7 linked regions of the Homo sapiens genome follow. The protein of the gene in region 6 interacts with the protein of the main gene of each other region in a pairwise test. Each region holds a gene or a part of one and is shown on either strand. Other genes may lie near its edges.

Region 1 (4,254 bases), on a different chromosome or scaffold from region 6:
TGGGTGAGTGGGTGAATGGGTGAGTGGGTGGATGGGTGAGTGGGTGAATGGGTGAGTGGGTGGATGAGTGGATGATGGATGGATGGATGGTGGGTGAGTGGGTGAATGGGTGAGTGGATGAATGGGTGAGTGGGTGGATGAGTGGGTGATGGGTGGATGGAAGATGGAGGTCTGCATCCCTGAGTCCTCTGTGGGAATCCTCAGGTTGGGAGGCAGTCAGAGCCATAGGAGGCACTGAGTCCAGGTGGGTCGCCCATACCTAGGCCTTGTACAGACACCTACACAATCCTACACCACAGTCTTCTTCAACAGGTATTTATTAAGCACCTCCTGTGTTCCAGGCCCAATGCTGGGTATGAGGACACAGCCAGGACAAAAGCTAAGTTGCCTACACAACTGGAAGGCACCACGTAATGTCTCAAAATTAGTGAACAACTAAGACAGCTCCACTGGTGATAAGCATGAATCAGACTTGGGGCTGGGGACAGTGTCAGGAAGGCTGGTGGCCAGGCTGGAAACCCCTGACTAGGGACTGGAGGAGGAGAAGGAGCTGCCAGAAGATACAGGAAAGGTGAAGATCCCAGGGCAGGAATGTGTTTGAAGGATTCAGGACAGCAAGGTCATCTGCGCACACCCATTCCCCCACCCCGAGGAGGGGTTCACACAGACCCCCAGCATCCGCACGCATAGTACCTCTGGTCCTGGTATAGGTTGGACTCCATTCTGAACGTGGTCTCCTCCTCGTCCTCAGCCCTGCAGAGATAAAGGGAAAGGTGGAAGGGGGCGGGAGAGGAGAAAGGGGGCGGTAAAGGGAAGGAAGCGGTGTGACAGCCTCAGCCTCTGTCCCAACCTCCCAGCCGGGGCTCATGAACCCCAGGACGCAAGGAAGGGCTGGGCTGCCTGGCTCGTTGTCTTGGGGAGACGGGCGGGTGCAAGCCCGGGATCTGGGCTCTGAGAGTAGAGGTTGGAGGAGCAGCAGGGAAATGGGAGACCTTCGGACTTTGAGGCTGGTGATGGGGGTACCAGAGAGGGTTGGGAAGCTGGGGGTGGGGGCAGGGCTGTGGGGGCAGCGGGGTGGGGGCGGGCACCCACCTGGCCTTGGAACACCAGAGGCGGTTGGCCAGCAAGACCAAATAGACGATGAACAGGAAGCCGACTACCGCAGCCAGGCCCACCAGCCACGGCTTCAGGCGATGCTCCGTGGCTGCAGGAAGTTGGGGAGGTTCGACTCAGAGGAAGAAAAGGTCAGAAGACCCCCTTCCCCCACCACCCTAGCAAGGAGAGAGAGAAGGTCACTGGGGGTGCTCCGACAGAGGGGGTATTGGAAAGGGACGGAGCTTCAGAGACCTGGATGGCGTAGGGGGGTCGGGAGGGTTTAGAGAGGGGGAGGGTACCTTACCAGAGTGGGAGGGAGCCTGGGGGCCCAGAGAGGGGAGGGGCTTATAAAAGAAGGGGGGCTTAGAGGGGACGGAGTTTACAAATCAGGAGGGCTCAGAAGGGGCGGGGCTTATAATGCAGGCAGAGGCTCAGGGGGAGGGGCTTATAAAGGCGGACCTCAGAAGGGCGGGGCTTATGACAAAGGAGTGGCTCAGGGGTGGGGTTTATAAAGGAGAACAAGCTCAGGGGAGGGGCTTATGAAGGAGGAGGTGGCTCAGATGGGGAGGGCTTATAAAGAAGAGTCTGGGGGGTTGGGGCTTACAACAGAGGAGCTGTTGGGGGGAGCTTATAAAAGGAGGCAGAGGCTTAGAGGGAGGGGCTTATAAAGGAGGAGCTCAGAGGGGAGGTGCTTATAAGGGGAGAGGGTCTCAGAGTGGGAGGGGCTTATAAAGGCGGCAGAGGCTCAGGAGGAGGGGCTTATAAAGAAGGAGGAGCTCAGAGGGGAGGGGCTTACAACAGACGAGGGGCTCAGGGAGGGGTCTATAAAGGATGAGTGAGAAGGAGGGGCTTACAGAGGAGGAAGAGGCTCAGATGGGGAGGGGCTTGTGAACTAGGGGGCTCAGAGTGGGAGGGGCTTGTAGAGGAGGCAGAGGCTCAGGGGGAGGGGCTTATAAAGAAGGAGGAGCTCAGAGGGGAGGGGCTTACAGAGGAGGAGGGACTCGGGGAGGGGTTTATAAAGGAGGGAGAGTGAGAAGGAGGTGCTTACAAAGGAGGAAGGGGCTCGGATGGGGAGAGGCTTGTGAACTAGGGGGCTCAGAGGGAGAGGGGCTTATAGAGGAGGCAGAGGCTCAGGGGGAGGGGCTTATAAAGAAGGAGGAGCCCAGAGGGGAGGGGCTTACAGAGGAGGAGGGGCTCGGGGAGGGGTTTATAAAGGAGGAGGAGTGAGAAGGAGCGGTTCACAAAAGAGGCGGGGACTCAGATGGGGAGGGGCTTGTAAAGGAGGCCCGAGCTCAGAGTGGGGCCGAGCTCAAGGCGGGGGGTTCAGCCAGGTGTGCTCAGAAGGGCTGGAGAGGGGAAAGGCTCGGGTGGGCGGTGGGGGGTCCCTTACAGAGGAGGGCAGAGCCCAGCGAGAGGGAGGCCGGGCGGTACTGCGGGGGTTGAGAAGGGCCTCCAAGCCACTCTTCCTTTTCTTCCTGCCCCCTCTCCTTTTTCTCGCCATGGAAAATTGGGAGATGGTGATCACCTGACCAACTCCCCTATCCCGCGACGCCCCCTCCCGCCCCCCTGCACCTACCCTGCTGGGCCTCCACCGGGGAGAGGAGCAGAAACTCCAGCACCAGAAGGGCCCCCAGGGTCTCCATGACGGTCGAGTGAGCCAGCAGCCAGCCAGCGGCGGTCCCGGGTCGGCGTCCACAGGTTTGGTGTGGGCGAGGCCCTGCCTCCCCGTGATAAGGCACAGGCGGTCCCCGGGCGGGGGATGCCTGAGACCTGGGAGCGGGGCCCGCCCCTGGCACCACCTGATTGGGCATCCTGCCCCTCCCCTGCCAGCTCCTGCCCCATCGCTCTCCCTCCGGGAGGCCAGACTCTGGACCTGTGTAACAATTAACTGAGGGAGTCCCTCCTCCCTGCACCCTGCCCTGGGGACCATCAGCCTCAGGGCCACCCCTTTGTGATCCCTGCTGCAGGGGCTGAGCTGAGATGGCTGCGACCTCCCGTCCCGGCCCAGGCCCCGTGCCACTCTGGACACAGGGGGAACTCACAAATACAACTGGAATATCTTAAGAAGGGTGCGCCCACCCAGTGCCTCACACCTGTAATCCCACTACATTGAGAGGCCAACGCGGGCAGATCCTTGAGCCTAACCTGGGCAACTTAGTCAAGCCCTACCTCTACAAAAATAGAAAAATTAGCCAGGCGCGGCGGGCACCTGCAGGCCCAGCTACTAGGGTGTGCTGAAGTGGGAGGATCACTTGAGCCCAGGAGTTTGAGGCTGCAGCCAGTTATGGCCGCACCACCGCACTCCAGCCTGGGTGACAGAGGAAGACCCTGTCTCAAAGGAAATAAAAAAAATTAGAAATACAAAGAGTTACCAAGGCTGGGTACAGTGTCTCACGCCTGTAATCCCAGCACTCTGGGAGGCTAAGGCGGGAGAATCGCTTGAGGCCAGGAGTTCCAGACCAACCTCCTCCCGTCTCTAAAATAAAAAATGTAAAACTTAGCTGAGCATGGTGGCCTGCACCTGTAGTCTCAGCTACTCAAAGAGACTGAGGTGAGAGGATCGCTTGAGCCCAGGAGTTCGAGGCTGCAGCGAGCTACGACTGCACCACTGCATGCACCACCGCACTCCAGCCTGGGCAACAGAACAAGACCTTGTCTCTCAAAGCAAATTTGAGAGTCACCTTTTGTGCTCTCAGAGTACACATGAGGCTCCGTGCTCGGCAATTTCACAGATCGCATTTCCTTTTCTTAACACCCCGTGAAATGGTGCCGGTCTCATTGTGCCCAGGAAAGTCAAGGTCACGCAGCAGGTCTGACCTGGGATTTGAAGCCGGGTCTGCCTCGCCCCCAGCTTATCCTGCCTCGCCCAGGCTCTTGGCCCCTGAGGACCCACAAGCAGCCATGGGAGCACACAGGGACAGGGAAGGTGTGCAGAGGCCACATGCCCGTGGTCCACCTGCAAACCGGGACGCTCTCACGTGGGGATGCCCGGGAGCGTTGATGACTCAGGCTCCAGGCTCTCCTGTCCTCAACCTTGGTCCCTCGGCTGATTAGATAGTGGGCCCTGCCCGGGCGAAGGGGGACCCCGCCCCAGCTGACACGGGAGCAGCCATGGCCCAGACGAGTGGTAGGAAGGCCCGGCGTCATCGCACAGGTGTT
Region 2 (4,192 bases), on a different chromosome or scaffold from region 6:
ATGAAAGCAGAAAATTTCCAAAAACTTTTGGCCTACTTAACTGCCCTGACAGCACATAGTTATTTTGTTTGGGAAAGGAGGGGGTGGACTGTTTCTTTCCAAAGGAACCATAATTAGTTGGCCACTTCAAATAGTATCAAAGAGATTTGGAAAACAGTTACTTTTCTAAATTTTTTAATGAGGCCAAGACATCTGATTTCCAGCGATTCTTAATATTAACAAGCTCCTGCAAAGCCCCTTAAAAATCACTATCATAATCTCTACCACTCAACAGGAACACACGGGGAAAAAACTACTCTGGCCTTTTACACACTTCGGGGCTTCTTTTACAGAGAATGACTTCACTGATCTGACTGGAAGTCCCGTTTCCCCAGGTCTCACCCTGGATTTGCACTCCTTTGAGTGCTGCACCGGTTTCTATATTTACGCACAAACCAGCTGCGGCCACCTTCCTTCGCAATTCCCAAACCTGCCTTTCACTGTACAGGATCCCTGGAGGTCCAATTCTGTTTTCTGGAGTCAAAGAAATACAAAATAATTTCACTACCTCCCAGAAAACAGACTTTGGTAAGTTTCAATATAAAATAGACAGCTCTTGAACCCAGGAGGCAAAGGTTGCAATGAGCCAAGATCTCGACACTGCACTCCAGCCTGGGCGACAGAGCAAGACTCCGCCTCAAAAATAAACAAATAAATAAAATAAAATAGACAGCTGTGTATTTTTGGTCCTAGCACCAATAAATTTCAGGGCTGGGAAAAATCATAAATTACCAAAGCATTCCTCTTCATATAACCAAAATATATTTTTCCTGTTGCTCAGGAAATTAAGACAAAATAGCCAACTAACACTTACGCAGCCTTACACGGAGAAACTCAAAGCTGGCAGGAAAGGACTAGAGATTTTTTTTTTTTTTTTTTTGAGACAGAGTCTCGCTCTGTCGCCCAGGCTGGAGTGCAGTGGCGCAGCCTCGGCTCACTGCAAGCTCCACCTCCCGGGTTCACGCCATTCTCCTGCCTCAGCCTCCCGTGTAGCTGGGATTACAGGCGCCCGCCACCACGCCCGGCTTATTTTTTATATTTTTAGTAGAGACGGGGTTTCACCGTGTTAGTCAGGATGGTCTCGATCTCCTGACCTCGTGATCCGTCCGCCTCGGCCTCCCAAAGTGCTGGGATTACAGGTGTGAGCCACCGCACCAGGCCAGGTCTAGAGATCTTTGATCTACAATCAACAAATAGTATGGGACTCCTTTCAGCGAATCCAATGCCCCACATGAATGTTTGGATGCTGGTTCTCCTTTAATAACTTCCCCCTATTAAATCTCTTACCAGTCATTTGGGGTTTGGGTTTCACCCTAGGGATACAAGGTGTTTGTAAGTCACTCTGAAACCTCTGAAGGGCAAAGTGTTGTGGACGCTATAATCTCCCTGCATACTGAGGGGGGCATAGCTCCCAACCAGTCATTAAATCCCGTCAAATGAGATACTCGAAAATGAGCTGCCCTTGGGTGGGTCCTTTCATAAAAAGGAATTTTTAAAAATCTGCTAACATGGTTACTCCACAAAGTTTACATGTATCATATTGTATAAATCTATAAATATGTACAATTATTTTTTGTTTAATTTCTAAAAATTTGCCAACAATGGCTGAAAAAGGCACCTGGCTGCCTGAGCCCCTACCCTTGTCGGTTACAAGTATTTCATAAGCAGGGTTTGAGGAATCCCATCAGAGAAGAGTGTTGTCACCTTTTTGCCGGAATGTCACACCAACTTCCTCAGTGTTCCCCTCACACCAACTTCCTCAGTGTTCCCCCTACCCCAATCTAGCCAACGTTTCAATGGCTCCCCACAGCACACAGTGCCTCTCAGGTGGGCACTCAAGGGTCCTTTCCTAATCCTCCCTAACCTAATTCTCCAAACTTTTTTTCCCCCAAAACAGCCCAGCAGACGGTCCAGTCAGTCCCCAAATCGTTTTTCCTCATGGTCTCCTTCCCCAGGGGTCCTCCCCTCCTTCTCTCCCCCCTGCAACCTCCACTGCTACCGGGAGATTAGTTCCCACCCGTCAGGACCCCGCTCAGATTTCACTTCCTCCAACAGGTCCGCTCAGATCCCAATCCACGGCTCTCAACAGCAGCCGGGATTCCTTTCCCCCGCAACGCCTTCTCTGAACACCCCGGCCTCCGAGCGCCGGCTTTGCGTTCCCTAGTTACTTCCAGTCACTAGTTACTTCCGCTCCGCTCCCACCCGCGGGACTCGCGACCTGCCCCCTGCCCCCGGCTGGCCCAGCTCGGAATAGGCAGAGCAGCGCCTCAGAAATCGCAGCCCAAGGCGAAGAAATCCAGAAGCCTCCCGCGGACGTCCCCCGGGACGGGGTGTGGCGAGCCCCGCTCCGAGCCCGCCGACTCCTCGTGAGACGAGAACCGCAGCGACGCGGAGACCCTGTGAGTCCACCGCCGAGACGCGCGGCGCGGCGACCAGGAGCCCCAGAGTAGCCGCGGGGCGCCGGGAGGGATCCAGCTGGCGGCAGCAGCTTCCCTGCCTCCCTGCCCCTCCCCAGGGGCTGCGCGAACCCCTGCCTGAGCCAGGCCAGCCCGGGTGCCCCCCAGTTCTCAGGGCGCTCCCCAGGGAGCCCGGGGACGCGCCCTGTCCGTGCCTGATCCCCGCCCTGGTCCCAGCTGGGTCGGGCCAGGTCCGCTGCACCTCACCTCTCCTCTCCACGAACCGACTGGATAACGGTCGGGTCTGAACCTGAGGAGCCCGGACCAGCCCGCAGTAGACTTGCCGCACCTGTCTCAGAGCAAGTGAGGAGCAGCCGGGCGCCTGACGTCACGGCCGCTCCCAGCGCCGCGAACCGGGAGTCACCTGATCACCCTGGCAACGCGCGCGGCGCGGGGCGAGGCGAGGCTTGCGTCACAGCACGAGCCCCGCCCCCAACTGCTCGGCCTCCAAGCGCCGCCGGAAGCGCTCTCTTGCAGTCGGCGCAGTCGGGAGGCGGGGTCGGTCTCCGACTTCCCAACGTGGGCCTCCCAGCTGCGCTGGATACTTAGGACTCCCACAGGCGTCCCCCTCAGATTGGATTGGTTCTCCGAGACTCCACCCGATACCCCAACTCCGCTAGTTCAGGCGCCTGGGAGGCAAGACCAGCGTCCATGCGGAACCCTGCTCAGTGCGTGGCATGAGGGGTCGGCTGTGGGCTGCTGCCTCCTCGTGTCTTGTTGGTCCAGACCCAACTAGGGTTGGGGGCTTACTTCCCGAGCTGTACCTGAGCGGAATGGGGCTGAGGCTGATAACTGGATTGCTCTCTGGCTACTTTTCCCCATAAACCTTGCAACAAGTAGTCCCGCCAGTACTTTAGAGTGTAATGAGACTTCATTCACATCAGGAGGGGGAAGGGGGACAGAATCTTCTGTCCTGAAGGTTTCCTTCTTCTGTTCCAACAGGAAGAGAAGTTACCGAAAAGCTCCCAGAGCAAGGCCTAGAATGAGCTTGCAAGTCCTACTTGCAAAAAATTTTTTATTTTTCATTTTAGAAATTGATTTTCTCTCCATATTCCTCCCCTTGCTTGCTATTAGGTTGGTGCAAAAGTAATTGTGGTTTTTGCATTTTTTTTTTAAATGGCAAAAACAGCAATTACTTTTGCACCACTCTAATATAAGTATATGCCTACAACTTTTGTTACTCTCTAGGCTTCCCAGATAAGACTATCAGCTTCGAAATGAAAATTTAACATCCCCTGGAGGTCTCAGTGTGAGAGTCACTGCCTATTTCACACCTTCACTATTTGCTGACTTTCATTTCAGTTTTACTCTCCTCATCCCTGCACTGCCAAGAAGGTTTCATATGTATTGAAACCTTCCCTCTCAAGAGTTTAGGATCTTAGACCAAGAAGTTAGTTTATAGTCAACTTCTTGTGAGCATCTTTTAGTGTCAGGCAATGGGCCATGGGCAGATTGAGATGTGGTTCTCGAAGATCAAACGTGTATGGGTGGTATGTCTCACATAAGTACAACTTGTACTGTTTATTATGACTTAATCATTGTATTTAAGTGGCACTTTTTAATTTTCACACTTAAAGAAACTCATATAAGTGGGAAAGAAGACAGCTGTGAAAGGTAGAGAAGAACCATGGCTCTAGACAGAGCTGTACTAATAGGAGAGAAGAGATTGAAAATGTGAGCCCAGGTCCCAAGGAGCA
Region 3 (3,500 bases), on a different chromosome or scaffold from region 6:
TACCCTTTGCTCTAGATAAATATAACCTGAAATTCAAATTTCGCCATTAACCTCACTTCCCCACCCAACCTCCCAAACACCAAAATTCATTGCTTCCTGCACCCTGGTATCTATGTTAACACACACTACTTTCTTCTTCGTTTCTCAACTCTTCCTCAGGTTGTTCCAACTCTCCATTAATCCATGTTCACTAATTTTTTCACAAAACAGCCAAGTAATCTCAAGCAATTCTAAACCGTGCCTGACTTACTGAATTTCTTAGCACAAATCTGTAGTTGATTCTGTGACTCTGGACAGTTTTTTCTTTCTTTTCCTGAGACAGAGTCTTGCTCTGTCGCCCAGGCTAGAGTGCAGTGGCGCGATCTCGGCTCACTGCAACCTCAACCTCCCAGGTTCATGTGATTCTCTTGCCTCAGCCTCCCAAGTAGCTGGAATTATAGGCAAGCACCACCACATCCAGCTAATTTCTGTATTTCTAGTAGAGACGAGGTTTCACCATGTTGGCCAGGCTGGTCTAAACTCCCAACATCAGGTGATCCGTCTGGGCAGAGATTAAGAAACTGGGGGGGATGGGCACGGCAACCCACACCTGTAATCTCAGTACTCTGAGAGACTAAGGTGGGAAAATTACTTGAGGCCAGGAGTTCAAGACCAACCTGGGCAATATAGCAAGACCCTGTATGCACAAAAGATGTTTTAAAAATGAAAAAAGAAAAAAAATACTGAGGGCACTAATAATGATGAATGACTAGAACAACTGCTGAATATTCCCTATTGGGTAAATGTATATACAACTTTTTTTTTTTCTTTGAGACAATCTCACTGTCACCCAGGCTGGAGTGCAGTGGCACAATCTCAGCTCACTGCAACCTCTGCCTCCCAGGTTCATGAGATTCTTTTGCCTCAGCCTCCAGAGTAGCTAGGATTGCAGGCCTGCGCCACCAAGCCCAGCTAATTTTTGTATTTTTAATAGAGACAGGATTTCACCATGTTAGCCAGGCTAGTCTCAAACTCCTGACCTCAAGTGATTCACCTGCCTCGGCCTCCCAAAGTGATGGGATTACAGGCATGAGCCACCATGCACAGCATGTATATATAATTTATCACTGGGCAGTAAAACCTCATCAATATTTGGCACTAAACTAGGAATAGTCCTCTTTACTTTTTTCTTAGAGGATACAGGATTGATAAATGTTAAGAATTTAAAGGACTTCCCTGCTACAACATGCAAACTTCCACTTAGAAGAATTCAGGTAAAAACAAAATATGAAATTAAACAGGTATTATCAAACTTGAAAGCAAAATTTGTAATTCAAATAATCGGCTTTCAAGAGTCTGCTATGGGCTGGGCACAGTGGCTCATGCCTGTAATCTCAGCACTTTGGGAGGCTGAAGTGGGAGGGTCCCTTGAAGCCGGGAGCTCAAGACCAGCCTGGTAAAGACAGGGAGACCCGATCTCCACAAAAATTTAGCTACTCAGGCAGCTGAGGTGGGAGGATCACTTGAGCTCAGGAATTCTGGGTTACAGTGAGCTATTACTGTACCACTGCACTCCAGTTGGGACAACAAAGTAAGACCTTTTCTCTAAAAAACTTTTTTTAAACAAATAAATAATATAAATGTGATTTTAAAAATGAAGGGCGCTGGCTGGGCGCTGTGGCACGCCTGTAATCCCAGCACTTTGGGAGGCTGAGGCGGGTGGATCACCTAAGGTCGGGAGTTCGAGACCAACCTGACCAACATGGAGTAACTCTAAAAATACAAAAAATTAGCCGGGTGTGGTGGTGTGTGCCTGTAATCCCAGCTACTCAGGAGGCTGAGGCAGGAGAATCGCTTGAACCCAGGAGGCAGAGGTTGCCCTGAGCCGAGATCGCACCACTGCACTCCAGCCTGGGCAACAAGCGCAAAACTCTGTCTCAAAAAAAAAGAAAGGCATTTATCCCATTCATAAGGGTAGAGCCCTCATGGCCTAATCACCACCCAAGGGTCCTACCTCTTAATATCATCACCTTGGAGGTTAAGCTCCAGCATGTGAATTTTGGAGGGACACATATATTGTAACCATAGCAACTTCTCCTTTCTACTAGTAGCTACATTAAAAAAAAAGTCTTATGAAGCCTGCATGCTTATTTTGATTTCAAGGTACATTTTACACATTTCTCAAAAACTTAATAGTCCATTACATTTTCTGGCTAGAAATGCTCTATTGTAATCCTCACTGAATCTCTCTGAAAAACCCATCAAAATACTTTCCTGCCTCAGCAAGAATGACTTAAATATAATTTAACTTGTTACCCTTATTATGTAACCATTTTAACTTTCTGAAATGTAACTTAAGCATAATCTAATCAATCCCCTAAATAACCAGTGTGTGTGGAGACAGACAGACATGGGCCAACAACATTTTGGTCAACAATGGACTGCATATATCATGAGGGTTCCATAACACTGTAATAGTGTATTTACAGTATTACTATATTTTTCCATCTTTAGATACACACCTATTTGCCACTGTATGATAACTGCCTACAGTATTCGGTACAGTAACCTGCTGTACAGGTTTTAGCCTAGGAGTCTCTACCACATCGCCTAGGTGTATAGTAGGCTACGCTATCTAGGTTTGTGTAAGTACACCCTATGATGTTCACACAACAATATCACCCAGTGACATTTCTCAGAATGTGTCCCCATCATTAAACAACACAGGACTGTATATAAAAATTAGCAGGGGAGATTTTTTTGTTTTTCTATTAAACACATACCAGCCATTCTCTCAGACGAATAGTAATTACCGATGACTTCATACTGAATGTTGACAGCTGGCATGGAGTTTGGATGAGTCACTTCCACAGTCAGCAAAATTGCCATCAATAGGTTTACTACCTGGAAAAGATAACATTCTATCAGTTACATTAATTACCATCACGACGCAATCTTAGCACAATCTCTAGATGTCCTCTCATATTTAAGATTGTCTTACTTGAAGTAACAAAGATATAAAATAGTGGGAGACTACCTGTGAGATAAAACAATACGCAATTACCACTATGAGAATAATTTAAAAATAAATATTTTATAAAGTATAAGTAATATTAACCATTTGAGAGATAAGATGCTTAACCAATACACCAGAAAAAAATTAAAACTAAAGAATCATTACAAATGGTTCATGTTCGAAGCTACCTATTTATTCATATACCAATCTCAGAATTTCTGGATTTGAAGAAGTTACTGTTCATCTGTTATATTTATTCATCAGATGCCCGAAACCCCTCCACAGCATCTCTCATCAGGTGACAGAGAACTCACTATTTCCTCTAGAGCTAGACTCAAATGCTTAAGAGACTTACCAAGATACTGAAAGTCACTTATCTACTAGTCTTACTTTTGTGTGTGTGTGTGTATGTGTATGTGTGCGTGTGTGTGATATGGAGTCTCACTCTATTGCCCAGGGTGGAGTGCAGTGGTGCAATCTCAGCTCACTGAAGCCTCCCCTTCCT
Region 4 (3,500 bases), on a different chromosome or scaffold from region 6:
TCATGATGGCAGAAAGGGGAAATGCCAAGCAAAAGGGGGAAAGGGCCCTTATAAAACCATCAGATCTTGTGAGAACTTACTATCACAAGAACAGCATGAAGGTAACTGCCCCTGTGATTAAATTACCTCCCACCTGGTCCCTCCCACAACACGTGGGGATGATGGGAATGACAACTCAAGGTGAGATTTGGATACGGACACAGAGCCAAATCCTATCAGACAGAATCTGAGAATGTCTTATTGGTTTAAGAGACATATACTTTAGAAAGCTGAGCTTCAACACAAATCCTCAAACTCTTCCAAAAAACTGAAGAGGAGGGAACCCTTCAAACTCATTTTATGGAGCCTGCATTACCCTGATACCAAAGCCAAAGACACTACAAGAAAACTGCAGAGCAATGTCCCTGATGAGTACTGATGTGAAAATCCTCGACAAAATACTAGCAAACAGAATTCAACAGCACATTAAAAGGATTATAGATCACCACCAACCAGTATTCCTGGACTGTGAGGATGGTTCAATACATGAAAATTAATCAATGTAATCAGCACATTTACAGAATGTTGGGGGAAAAAGAAACATGATCATCTCAACTGATGCAGAAAAAGCTTTTGACAAAATTCCACAACCTTCATGATAAAAACACTCAATAAAGTAGGAATTGAAAGAAACTACCTCAACATATTAAAGGCCATTTTTCCACGGTAGTAGTTCTATGCAAACCGACCCCCAAATTCCAAGAAAGCTGAGAGGCTGGCAAATCCATTTTCTTAGAAAAAAACATTTAATAGGGACATAAGAACAGAAGCCATCTCTGTGTCTCTGTCTCAGGCAGAGAAAAGATAGTGGATCTACGGGCCATAAATCCCCTGACCTAGGGCTTATATACCAGAGGGAAAGGGTGATTCAGAAGGGATTGTAGGACAACTGAAGGAAGACAACATCAAGGTTGTTTTGACCTAAGGACAGGATTTATGGTAAGTACATGCTCTTATACAAGGAACCACAGATAAATTGGAAATCTTAGAGGGTTTCCTGGAACTGGGGTTAGTCAGAAGTCAACAAGGCAGATTAGCAACCAAGATGGAATTACTTTGGCCTCCACAGCCATATATGAAAAGCCCAGCACTAATGTCTTACTCAGTGGTGAAAAGCTGAAAACTTTTCATCTAAGATCAGGAATAAGACAAGGACGTTTGCTTTTGCCATTTCTATTCAACATAGTACAGGAAGTCCTCGCCAGAACAATTGGGCAAGAAAAAGAAATAAAAGGCATCCATATTGGAAAGAAAGGAGTAAAATTATCTCTGTTCACAAACATGACCTTACATGTAGAAAACCCTAAAGATTCCATAAACTGTTAGAATAAATGAATTCAGCAAAGATTCAAGATACAAAATTAAAATGCAAAATTAGTTACATTTTTATACACTAACAATGAGAAGGTTGGAAAGAAAGTTAAGAAAACAATTCCATTTACAACAGCATCAAAAGGAATAAAATGCTTAGGAATAAACCTAACCAAGAAGACAAATTTGAAAACTACAAAACACTGATGAAAGAAATTAAAGACAAAAATAAATGGAAACACATCCATCATTATACATTGGAAAACCGATGTTCATACTACCCAAAGTAACCTACTTTGGGTAGATTTAATGCAATCCCTATCAAAATCCCAATGGCATCTTTCACAGAAATAGAAAATCCATTCTAAAATGTATATGGAATGTCAGGGGACCCCAAATTGCCAAAACAATATCTAAAAAAAACAACAAAGTTGGAGATCTCACATTCCTGATTTCAAAACTTATTACAAAGCCACAGTAATCAAAACAGTGTGGTACTAACATAAAGACAGAGACATACAGACCAATGGAATACAACAGAGCTCCAATAATAAATCCTGGTATATATGATCCTTTTTTTTTTTTTTTTCAGACACGGTCTCCCTCTGTTGCCTAGGCTGGAGTGCAGTGGCACAATCACAGCTTGCTGCAGCCTCGACCTCCCAGGCTCAAGTGATTCTCCCACCTTGGCCTCCAAAAGTGTTAGGATTACAGGCGTGAACCACTGCACCCAACCTTGTGAATCTTCTTTAGTGGGGTATGTGTTCAAGTCTTTTGCTGTATTTTATTCAGGCTATTTGTCTTCTTATCGTTTAGAGTTCTTTTGTATATTTTGGATAACAGTCCTTTATTAGATATATCTTTTGCAAATATTTTCTCCCAGTATGTAGTCTATCTTATTTTCTTGACTTCTTCACTTTAAAATCAGGTTGTTTTTTGTTATTGAATGGTAGGATTTCCTTATGTATTCTGGATATTAGCCTCTTACAGGATATATCATTTGCAAATATTTTCACCCATTTTATGGGCCTTTTCACTCTGTTGAATGTGTTCTTTGATACACAGAAGTTTTAAATTTTGATGTCATCCATCTATTTTTACTTCTGTTGCCTGTTTTTGGTGTCACGCCCAAGAAATCCATTGCCAAATCCAATGTCCTCCTATGTTTTTATCTAAGAGTTTTATAGTTTTAGGTCTTACATTTAGGACTTCGATCTTTTTTGAGGTAATTTTTGTATACAGTTTAAGGTAAGCATCTAATTTCATTCTTTTGAATGTGGATATTCAATTTTCCCAACACCATTTGTTGAAGAGACTGCCCTTTTCTCATTTGATTGGCTGGGCACAGTGGCTTATGCCTGTAATCCCGGCACTTTCGGAGGCCAAGGTGGGTGGATCACTTGAGCCCACGAGTTTGAGACCAGCCTGACTAACATGACGAAACCTGTCTCTTCTAAAAATATAAAAAATTAGCTAGGCATGGTGGCATGTGCCTGTAGTTCCAGCTACTCAGGAGGCCGAGATGGGAGGATCACTTGAGCCTGGGACATTGAGGCTGCAGTGAGTTGTGACTGTACCACTGCACTCCAGTCTGAGAGACAGAGTGATACTTTGTCTCAAAAAAAAAAAAAAAAAAAAGAAAAAGAAAAAGAAAAAGGAAGAAGAAACACAAATGGCAAATAAGTATATGAAAAGATGCTCAACATTATAAGTCATTAGAGAATTACAAGTTAAAGCAACAAGGAGATGCCACTACACACCTATTAAATGGTCAAAATCTAAAACACTGATATCATCAAATGCTGACGAGTATGTGGAACCAACAAGAACTCTCATTCATTGCTGGTGGAAGTGCAAAATAGTACAGCCACTTTGTAAGACAGCTTGGTGATGTCTTATGAAACTAAACATTCTCTTACTATACAACACGGCAATTGTGCTGCTTGGTATTTACCCAAATGAGTTGAAAACTTATGTCCACACAAAAACCTGCACATGGATGTTTACAAAGCAGCTTTATTGACAAAACTTGGAAGCAGGCAAGATTTCCTTCAGTAGGTGAATGAATAAACTGTAATGCATCCAAACAATGGAATAGTATTCAGCACTAAAGAAAAATGAGCTATCAAGCCATGCAAAGACATGTAGAA
Region 5 (3,500 bases), on a different chromosome or scaffold from region 6:
TGAGATGGGGTCTTGCTCTGTTGCCTAGGCTGAAGTGCAGTGGTGCAATTACAGCTCACTGCAGCCTCAACCTCCTGGGCTCAAGCAATCTTTTCACCTCAGCCTCCCAAGTAGCTGGGACAACAGGCATGCACCACCATGCCCAGCTAATTTTTTGTAGAGATGGGGTCTCAACATGTTTCCCAGGCTGGTCTCAAACTCCTCTGCTCAAGCGATCCTCTCACCTCAGCCTCTCAAAGTGCTGGAATTACAGGCATGAACCACCCCACCTGGCTGGACTTTCTGACCTGCACTGAGAGGTGACTCCCACAGAGACCTCAAGCCCAGCCCCCAGGCCTTGCCACGAGATCCAAGGAAGGACCAGGGCCTGGCAGGCCCAGCAGGGGGATCTGCTTCCAAGGGCTTGGATCTAAGTCGAAGCTTCAGGGTGGGGTCCAAGTGGACTTAAAAGGCAGGAGAGCTGGGCACAGTGGCATGTGCCTGTAGGCACAGCTACTCAGGAGGCTGAGGTGGGAGAATGGCCAGAGCCCAGGAGTTTAAGACTGTAGTGTGCCATGATCGCAACTGCAAATAGCCAGTGCACTCCAGCCTGGGCAACACAGGAAGACCCCATCTCTAAAAAAGATAGGGAGAGTGAGGAGAACACAATGTGGCCAACTGAATTCGAGCTCTGCACAAGGATCAGAGAGGTTCAGTGCTCGCCTTTGTCTCCACCCAGTGCCCCTGGACAACTTGCCTCCCTTCTTGAAGCCTCAGTTTCCTCATCTGGATCAAGTGAGAATAGTCCCCCTTCCCTGGGAGGCAAGGAGACTTGATGAGATAATGAGGAAGACTTGGGCAGAGAGGGGCCAGCTGGAGGTAGCAGGGAGTAGCACCCAGGAGCCCACAGACTGGGTTTCCATCTGCGTACTTGCCACACACTATGTGACCCCTTGGCATGAGCCCCGTTTGCCTCATCTGCAAAATGGGGTGGTAACATGACCCATTGCATAAGGTTGACATGTTATATGTGTGTTAACTCGTTAGATTAGGAAGCTGTTGTCTGAAGTGCCCAGGGCAGGGTCTGGCCCATAGTAGGAGCTCCATGTCGGTCAGCTGCTTCTTCCTGTTGAGTGAGCTTAACGAGAGCTCGTTGACTGAGCTGTGTGCCAGTGCTCCAGGTAGTCCCTGCAGTGGTGCCCTCGGGTCAGTGCTGTGGGAACTTCGCATCCTCTAGGTGGGGCCCTGAGGCTCAGAGAGAAGCTGAGCTCACACGGCCATGGCAGGTAGAGCGGGCGTCTGAGTCTGTCTGACTCCAGCATTTACCTCTCTGCCACCCAGCTACATGCCCCACCCTGAGTACTCAGTAAATGGCCAGAGAGTTGAGGGGGAGGAAACTGCTGCAGATGGGTGCCAGGCAGGGCTTTAACGTTTCCCTCACCCCAGTTGCCCAGCCTGCCCACCTGACCTTCCGTCTTTTGCAGAGCGTCCAGCAGAACGGCTCCATCTACATCCACGTTTACTTCACCAAGAGTGGCTTCCACCCAGACCCCCGGCAGAAGGCCCTGTACCGCCGGCTTGCCACAGTCCACATGTCCCGGAGTAAGTCGCTCCCCTGCAGCCAGGACCCACTGTCCAGGAGGCCAGCATCCTGGGAGCCCCCAGGCTAATGTGGCGGACAAATCCCAAGTCCAGGAGGGCAGGCAGGAAGCCTGTGCTCAAAGAGGGTGGGATTGGCAGGGCAGGCTCAAGCCCCACCCAGCCTGAAAGAGCCCTGTGGACACTAAGCAGGGATACCCACGGAGGAAGGGAGACCCACGGAGGCTCAGGGACCAGAGAGAAATTGGCCAGAAAAAGCAGCTGGAGACAGGGACTCTTGGAGAGGAGGAGACGTCCTTCACCAAGGGGGAAGGGCCAGGGTTGACTTTTGCACAGTAGGGGCCTGATAGAAGTAGACACTCAAAAATAATTTGTGGGCTGGGTGCAGTGGTTCATGCCTGTAATCCTAGCACTTTGGGAGACAAGGTGGGCAGATTGCTTGAGCCCAGGAGTTTGAGACCAGCCTGGGAAACATGACAAAACCCTGTCTCTACCAAAAAAGACACAAAAACTAGCTGGGCGTGTGCCTGTAGTCCCAGCTGCTCAGGAGGCTGAGGTGGGAGGATCGCTTGAGCCCAGGAGGTGGAGGTTGCAGTGAGCCAGAATCACACCACTGCACTCCAGCCTGGGTGACAGACCGAGAACCTGTCTCAAAAAGATAGATAGAGGCCGGGCACAGTGGCTCACGCCTGTAATCCCAGGACTTTGGGAGGCCGAGGCGGGTGAATCACAAGGTCAAGAGATAGAGACCATCCTGGCCAACACGGTGAAACCCCGTCTCTACTAAAAATACAAAAATTAGCTGGGTGTAGTAGCATGCTCCTGTAGTCCCAGCTACTTGGGAGGCTGAGGCAGGAGAATCGCTTGAATCCAGGAGGCGGAGGTTGCATTGAGCTGAGATCACGCCATTGCACTCCAGCCTGGTGACACAGCAAGACTCCGTCTCCGTCTCAAAAAAAAAAAAAATAGATAAAATTCAAAGAACAGTGTGGGCAACATAATGAGACTTCGTTGCTACAAAAATTAATAGCCAGGTATGGTGGTGAGCACCTGTGGTTCCAGCTACATGGGAGGCTGAGGTGGGAGGATCGCTTGAACCTGGGAGGTCAAGGATGCAGTGAGCTGTGATTGCACTACAGCTTTCCAGCCTGGGCGACAGAGCAAGTCCACGTCTCTGAAAAAACAATAGTAATAAAAAATAAGACTACCACTTCTACTCCCATGATAACTCATTAATCCATTAAACCACTAATCCATGAATGGGTTAATCAGTTCCTGAGGGGAGGGTCCTCATGACCCAGTCACCTCTTAAAAGCCTCATCTCTCAGTACTGGCACATTGGGGATTAAGTTTCACTGGGAGTGGGGAGTACTAGAGTACATCAGTAGTCCCAGCTACTTGGGAGGCTGAGGTGGGAGAATCAGCATGAGTTTTGGCCAGGACAAACATTCAAACCATAGCATTGTCCGTCCTCTTGTTTTCGAGAAGTTAATAATTGTTGTCATCTTTCTGCTTGCCTGGCTCTTTTTTTTTTTTTTTTTGAGACAGGGTCTCACTATGTCGCCCAGGCTGGAGTGCAGTGGACTATCTCAGCTCACCACAATTTCCACCTCCCAAGTTCAAGCGATTCTCCCACCTTAGCCTCCAAAATAGCTGGGACTACAGGCACACGCCACTACGCCCGGCTAGTTTTTGTATTTTTAGTAGAGACGGGGTTTCGCCATGTTGGCCAGGCTGGTCTCAAACTCCTGACCTCAAGTGATCGTCTGCCTCGGCCTCCCAAAGTGCTGGGATTACAGGTGTGAGCTGCCACACCCAGCCTTGCTTGGTTCTCTGTGAGCTTTTTCCCTGAGTCCTCTGTCTCCTGATGGGCAGCCGTAGAAATCTCTTGCTGTACCTGTTTGAGCGGAGCTGGAGAATGG
Region 6 (3,500 bases):
ATCCCTCTGAAGGAAGCCGTTCAAATGTCCCTCAAGTGGTGAATAGCTAAACAGTGTATGAATTGTGGCACACTGACATTCACATGCTGGAGTACTATACAGCAACAACAAGCAAAACACTGATACATCCAACAAGTGGGTGAGTTTCATCATGCTAAGTGAAGGAAGCCAAACACAAAAGGTGACGTGCCCTATTATTACATTTACAGCTCATTCTGGAAAAGCTAAAACTGCATGGTCTGGAGGTGAGAAGAAAAGGGTATTAACTGCAAAGAGACATGAAGAACCTTTTGGGGGTGATGGAAATATTCTCTATTTTCATCATGGCAGTGGCTAAATGACTATATATACGTGTGTGTGAGTGTATGTGTGTGTGTGTGTCGTCAAACTAATCTAACTGCATGTTAGAAGCAGTGAATTTTACTCTGTCAATTGTACCTCAATAAACTTGATTAAAAAAAAAAAAGTTCTTCAGCACCAAAAGAAAAGGCAACAAAAGTAAAAAGAGATAAATTAGACTACATCACAATCAAAAACTTCTGTGCATCAAAGGTCACAATCAACAGAATGAAAAGGTAACCTATGGAATGGGCTGAAATATTTGCAGATTTTGTACCTGATAAAGAGTTAATCTCCAGATTATATAAACCATTGCTACAACTCAAGAACAACAAAACCAGTTCAAAAATGGGGAAAGGACTTGAGTAGACATTTCTCCAAAGAAAATACACAAATAGCCAACAAGCACATGAAAAGATGATCAACATAATTAATCATCAGAGAAATCAAAACCACAATGAGATAACACTTCAAACCCATTAGGATGGCTACTATCAAAAAGACCAACAGAAATTAACAAGTGTTGGCAAGGATGTGGAGGAATTGGAACCTTTGTGAACTGTTGGTGGGAATGTAAAATAGTGTAGCCGTTATGGAAAAAAAATACAGCCGTTCCTTCAAAAAACTAATAATAGAATTAGATTATGATCCAGTAATTCCACTTTTGGATATTCCACCCCAAAGAATTGAAAGATATCTTGAAGAGATATTTGTACATTCATGTCCATAGCAGTATTATTCACAATAGCCAAGAAGTGGAGCATCCCAAGTGTCCATTGACAGATGAATGGATAAACAAAATGTGGTATATATGTACAATGGAATATTACTCAGCCTTTAAAAAGAAGACAATTTTGGCACATGCTACAACATACATGAACCTTGAGGCCATCACACTAAGTGATCTAAGCCAGTCATACAAAGACAAATACTATATGATTCCACTTATATGAGGTACCTAAAGTAACCAAACTCATAGAAACAGAAAGTAGACAGGCGGTTGTCAGGAGCTGGAGGGTGGAGAGTATGGGGAGTTACTGTTTAATGAGTACAGAGTTTCCGTTTTGCAAGATGAAGAGTTCTGGAGCTTGGTTGTGTGAAGGTACTTAACACTACTCAACTGTACACTTAAAAGTGGCTAAGATAGTAAATTTCATATTATGTATATTTTACCACAATTTTGAAAAGTTCCTCAGTTTACAGAACAGTAATGTGCCATAATGGAAAAACCACAGGGTTCCAGGTCAGGAAGATGTGGTCCTTGCCCCAGCCCTGCTTCTTTCTAGCTGTCTGACCCCTACAACGCTTCTTTCCCTTTCTAAATCACAGCTTCCTCATATGTAATATGGGGATGATCATACCCAAGAACAAATTTAAGGGAATCACATGTATGGAAATACTCGCGTATCACTATACAAATGTCAGCTGTTTAAGAAAATGATGCCCAGAAGTGTCAATGAAATGGCTGATGTTTATACAATCAATTAGTGCCAAGGACAGGGCTACAACACAGGTTTCCCAAGTCCCTGTCCAGTACCCACTTCTCTACACCTTTTGTTCTTGTACTTGTTGTATGTACAGAACAACTTTGACCCCATCCATCAGCTCACAGGGTCCCCTTTCACATTCTCTGCTATAATTATGGGTTGACCCTCTCTTGATGCTTAACCCCATCTCTCTGAACGTGATTTCTTAACAATGCCACTCAATGTCCAAACTGAGCAATGCTTGGCTGCATCTTTAGGAAGCACCTTGGAGATGTTGGTTCCCACTGAGCTGGTGGGTTCACAGCCATTTCACTGGCTACCCCTGTTCCATGCACTCACCTGACGAATGTGGGGTACAGCTCAGCATTCACCAGGCAGATCATTTGTATTGCAATGGTGATTCCCATTCGGCCAACACACATGATTATGATGTTTAACCAGTGCAGGTCTGGAAAGGAAGTACAAAGAGGGTGTGGGTGGTGGATGGGGGCTTCGTTCCCTGAGTTACTGTGAGAGGCCATGGTGGGTCATGCTTGGACTATTAGAGCTGGTGGGGCCTGGAAGTTTGTCTTATCTAACTTTTTCATTTTTAGATAAGTAAACTGAGTCTCAAGAGATTTGGGGAGTTGACGATGACATATTCAAGAAGACTCCATTGAACAGGGGAAAGAATGGGCTTTTTGAATCTCAGCTTGGTTTCCTGGGCTGTAAAATGGGAATAATGACACCCAGCTTATAGATCATCATGAGACTTAGAGCTGATGTATGTCAAATGTCCACTGTGACCACAGAATTTTAAAGTTGGCTTTTTATTTATTATATGATAGTATCCATTCTAGTTCAGTGCCTGAAACACAGAAAGCACTCAATAAACATAATCCCTCTAGTAGTAGTTCTCAAACTAACAAAACAGATTTCTAATCCTCAATTTAATATTTGTTTCCAATACAGTTTTAACCAAAACACCTTTCATAATAGTCTCAGAGGCTGAGAATGAGGGAAGCGAGCCCTTGTTTCACGCTGGCAGGCTGCTGTGGGGTTCTCGACCACCTGAAGGCCCAGAAAGCCCTCTCCCTATTGAGAATGATCAAAGAATTTGGCTTCATTGGAAAGAAGCTCAGATCCTTAATAACCACCATCATCTGCTCTGCATGGGTTACCCCCAGCACTGAAATGCAAGTAACCCTGTGACACACCAGCTCACTATAAAGGCCTCTGGGGTCACAGACACGATGTCAGCTTGACCCTTGTCCCCAGATACTGGCTATTTATGGAAATCTTGTATCATCTCACTCAGCCAGTGTGAGGGTCCAAATGAGAGTGCCCCTCACCCGTCTCATGGGTGCAACACAGTCTCTCTGCCTCCTGGAGCTCTCAGCCCTGATAGAGAAGCCAAGCTGAGCCTTCTGTTAAGGACCACACCTCATCTAGCTTCTAAAAGATAAAAGGCAAGGAGTTCACTCCAATGCCTCGAGGGAGGTCCTCATTCACAGGTCTTTAGCCTGGTGATGCTTGACCAGAGGTAAACAGCATCCCTGGCCTCAGAGAACTGAACATGCCTCCACTCTGCACCCCCAGGGCCGCTCATCACAGCAGCCAGAGGGACCCAGTTCAGACTGGAGTTGGGTCAAGTCCACCCCTGCTCAAAGCCACCAGTGGTTTCCTACCACTCTT
Region 7 (3,500 bases), on a different chromosome or scaffold from region 6:
AAGTGGGGGAAGAAGCTGAGGGTGGGTGGCCGGTGTCCCCTAAAGCCGCGGGGACAGAAGGCGGGCTGCTCTGCCCCCAGGTCTTATCGGCTTTCATAGGAGGAATGGGTTTTGTTCAGTCCCGGGTAGAGAAGACATTGCCATTTACTGAGATCCAGCTGCATATGACACAGAAGAGGACGTGGTGCTCTGTGAGGTCCTGAGCTTCGAGGTTTGGACAAGGACTGGTGGGTGCCATTAACAGGGGGCAGATTCGGACGGGTATAAGAATGAAGTTGGTTATCCAGCCTGGCAGGGGCTATGGGAGAGGGAGCCCGCCATTCAAGGGGTGCAAGGGGAGGCAGAGACAACCTGCCGGGAAGGCACCTGGCGAGAGCAGGGTCTCCCCAACTCCACACTTCCTGGTCCAGTTCCTTTATTGTTCAAATTTAAAATATGTTTGTGGCCAGGCACGGCGGCTCATGCCTGTAATCCTAGCATTTTGGAAGGCCGAGGAGGGCGGATCACTTGAGACCAGGAGTTCGAGACCAGCCCGACCCACATGGCGAAATCCTGTCTCTACTAAAAAGAGAAAAATTAGCCGGGCATGGTGGTGTGTGCCTATAGTCCCAGCTACTTGGGGAAGAAGCGCTTGAACCCAGGAGGTGGACGGTGCAGGGAGCTGAGAGCTGAGGTCGCACCACTGCACTCCTGCCTGGGCGACAGAGTGAGGCTCTGCCTCAACAACAACAAAAAAAGTGTTTATTCAGGCTGCTCTCCCTATGGAATAGCCATTCTTTATTTCTTAACTTTGTTAATAAACTTGTTTTCACTTGTTTAAAAAAAAAAAAGTGTTTGTGGCCGGGCGCAGTGGCTCATGCTTGTAATCCCAGCACTTTGGGAGGCCGAGGCGGGCGAATCACTTGAGGTCAGAAGTTCGAGACCAGCCTGGCCAACATGGTGAAACCTCATCTCTACTAAAAATACAAAAATTAGCTGGGCTTGGTGGCACATGCCTGTAATCCCAGCTACTCGGGAAGCTGAGGCATGAAAATCGCTTGAACCTGGGAGGTGGAGGTTGCAGTGAGCTAAGATTGTGCCACTGCACTCCAGCCTGGGCGACAGAGCAAGACTCTGTCTCAACAACAACAACAAAAAAGTGTTCATTTCAGAAGAGGGTGTCAGAGTGTGGGGACCACAGCAAGAAGTACCTTTGAGGGGGTATGGGAAATGACCTCTGACCCCCACGCTGACCCGAAATCCTCCATGAGGAAGACCACGAAGGCAAGCACAGAGGGTCACTGAGGGGGTCACCGAACAGAAGGTTTGCTGATGTAAGAGGAGGAGGCTTTGGAGGAAGCCAGTGGCCGGGATGGTGGGAGCCCACACTCAATTCCCTGAGAAAGTGCAGCACCAGCCTCAGTGGTCGCTGCTGTATGGGGTCTTCCTGCTTCCACCAGCTACCCCATGACCTTCAGGCTCTCTGCAGCCCAGGCCTGCCAGTGTGCCTCAGTGTGCCTTTCGTGCTGCTGGTCCCTGGGGGCCACTCTCCTCTGCTCTGCAGCTGGGCCCTGCACCCTCAGCACATCAGGGCTGGATCGCTGGGACCCAGGGGCTCCCCATGGGCCAGAAGCCTCCAGGACCCCAGAAAAAGTCTGTGTTTCTGGATCCTCTTGGCAGAATGACTCGAGGCTCTGTCTTACTGGACCCAGTGGCTGGGCAGTGTTTCAGGCCAGGCTGCGTGGGACGGATCCACCTGGAGGGGTTGCTGGAGCCAGAGAATCAGCGGTGGGCACTGGGACCGCTCCAATCTCCCACAGGGACGGCAGGATGTGAGGCCCGGGGCTGCAGCACTCACCACCCCACGGGGTTGATCTTGTACCAGAACTTTTTCTGTTCGATCATGTCCTTGCACTCTGTCCCTTGGTGGGGGGATTCCTGGGTTAAAATGTTAGAAATGACATCTCCAAGGTGCTCGGGACAACAGACAAAGCCCCACAGGTCCCAGCTGGAGCAGGGAGGTCCCTGGACATCTCATTCTCATGGCAGGTAAGGAACGGGAAGCCCCGACGTGGGCACAGCCAGGGGTCCCTGGACATAGCCGCAGCGCTGAGCCCTGAGGGACAGGTCGTGGCTCCGTCATCCACAGACATAGTTCAGGCACCGCCTTGTTGGCTGCCTGGGGTGGAACCACTTCCTGGGGCTGCAGTGGGTTAATGCCAGGCCACGCGCTGGGCTGGAGAGGTTTTTCCTCAGAGCCTGGGTTTTTCCTCTCTCCTCCCCTCTGCCAATCTGGCCAGCACTCCGAGAGTCGCACGAGGCTCCCGTCCCCCAGACTGCGGCTGGCGCTCAGCTATTTGTCCTTTTTTCCCAACTCTCCGCTTTTCCTTGTCAACGGCCTGAGGTCCAAGGCAGCCCCAAGGCCCAGCATGTGCTCTCCCTTCCAGCCCTGCTGCTGGCTCTTCTAGAGGCTGGGCTGGGACCCTGGAGACCTGGGGCTGGCTCGGACCCACCTGGGCTGTGCAGAGACGGATGGGGGCAAGGCCAGGGACAGATGCCACAACGGCCGGCAATGGTCCCACGAAGTGCCCTTGAGAGGTCTGGGCAAAGCCAGGGCTGGGTTCTCACTGATCCTGTGCCTCAGTGGGTCACCGCAGCCTGGGTCTCCCTTTCCCCATCTGGAAATGAGACTGACATCATGACAATTCCTTCTGGCTCAGCCCATGACTTCAAAGAGCCGTCCATTAAACCCTGGCGTGCCCATCAACAGGCCTTTTCTCACACGCGCTGTCCTTCCCTACAAAGTCCTGTTTCCAGCCCCAGGCCACTTTCTCCTTAAAGGGTGACACCTGTGGGCGGGCACCCAGGGAGCTTGGCATGCAGGCTGAGGCAGGGATGAAACGGGCCTGGTGTGGTGGCTCACACTTATAATCCTAGCACTTTGGAGGCCAACGTGGGCAGATCACGAGGTCAGGAGTTCGAGACCGGCCTGGCCAACATGGGAAAACCCCATCTCTACTAAAAATACAAAAAATTAGCTGGATGTGGTGGCACACACCTGTAATCCCAGCTACTCAGGAGGCTGAAGCATGAGAACCACTTGAACCCGGGAGGCATAGGTTGCAGTGAGCCTGGGCGACACAGTGAGATTCCGTCTCAAAAAGGAAAAAGAAAGAGGCCCGTAGGAACGGAGAAACTGAAGGAACCGTGGCCCTCTCACCAAGAGACAAGCACCCTTTTCTCGAATGCCCTGGGGGGCGGGGTCGGCTGGAGGAGAAATATCCCACAGGAGCTTTTTTCTGAAGATGCAAAACATCCACCCAGAGCCAGAGCCAGGCCTGAGACAGGGCGTGCCAAGTCCTCCACAACATCCCAGGACAAGGGTGGCCCTGCCCACCCTACGTCCACTCACCAGGACGCCCTGCCTGGCCCCCTTCCCAAAGCACCACTGGGAGGCTCTGGACTCCGGGAGAAGCTTCTGGAATGTCTGAGAACCAAACCAGTTTTCAATCAAACCTTTT

The links.
Region 1: the proteins of SLC22A1 (region 6) and SMIM24 interact in a protein complementation assay, tested with the Homo sapiens proteins (one large-scale study listed by BioGRID).
Region 2: the proteins of SLC22A1 (region 6) and CYSTM1 interact in a protein complementation assay, tested with the Homo sapiens proteins (one large-scale study listed by BioGRID).
Region 3: the proteins of SLC22A1 (region 6) and LAPTM4A interact in a protein complementation assay, tested with the Homo sapiens proteins (one large-scale study listed by BioGRID).
Region 4: the proteins of SLC22A1 (region 6) and TMBIM4 interact in a protein complementation assay, tested with the Homo sapiens proteins (one large-scale study listed by BioGRID).
Region 5: the proteins of SLC22A1 (region 6) and CLPTM1 interact in a protein complementation assay, tested with the Homo sapiens proteins (one large-scale study listed by BioGRID).
Region 7: the proteins of SLC22A1 (region 6) and CHST12 interact in a protein complementation assay, tested with the Homo sapiens proteins (one large-scale study listed by BioGRID).

What each region holds. Positions count from the first base shown.
Region 1 is NC_000019.10:3,477,726-3,481,979, forward strand, and holds the start of SMIM24 (small integral membrane protein 24 precursor), read right to left. Parts: upstream 2,801-4,254; 5' UTR 2,739-2,800; coding exon 2,672-2,738; intron 1,205-2,671; coding exon 1,093-1,204; intron 754-1,092; coding exon 694-753; intron 1-693.
Region 2 is NC_000005.10:140,173,796-140,177,987, reverse strand, and holds the start of CYSTM1 (cysteine-rich and transmembrane domain-containing protein 1), read right to left. Parts: upstream 2,801-4,192; 5' UTR 2,703-2,800; intron 1-2,702.
Region 3 is NC_000002.12:20,038,129-20,041,628, forward strand, and holds part of LAPTM4A (lysosomal-associated transmembrane protein 4A), read right to left. Parts: intron 2,884-3,500; coding exon 2,763-2,883; intron 1-2,762. UniProt on the Homo sapiens protein: May function in the transport of nucleosides and/or nucleoside derivatives between the cytosol and the lumen of an intracellular membrane-bound compartment.
Region 4 is NC_000012.12:66,163,497-66,166,996, forward strand, and holds part of TMBIM4 (protein lifeguard 4), read right to left. Parts: intron 1-3,500.
Region 5 is NC_000019.10:44,975,880-44,979,379, forward strand, and holds part of CLPTM1 (putative lipid scramblase CLPTM1), read left to right. Parts: intron 1-1,463; coding exon 1,464-1,581; intron 1,582-3,500. UniProt on the Homo sapiens protein: Involved in GABAergic but not glutamatergic transmission. Binds and traps GABAA receptors in the endoplasmic reticulum (ER).
Region 6 is NC_000006.12:160,142,315-160,145,814, reverse strand, and holds part of SLC22A1 (solute carrier family 22 member 1), read right to left. Parts: intron 2,275-3,500; coding exon 2,166-2,274; intron 1-2,165. UniProt on the Homo sapiens protein: Electrogenic voltage-dependent transporter that mediates the transport of a variety of organic cations such as endogenous bioactive amines, cationic drugs and xenobiotics. Functions as a pH- and Na(+)-independent, bidirectional transporter.
Region 7 is NC_000007.14:2,445,111-2,448,610, reverse strand, and holds the end of CHST12 (carbohydrate sulfotransferase 12), read right to left. Parts: 3' UTR 127-3,500; downstream 1-126. UniProt on the Homo sapiens protein: Catalyzes the transfer of sulfate to position 4 of the N-acetylgalactosamine (GalNAc) residue of chondroitin and desulfated dermatan sulfate.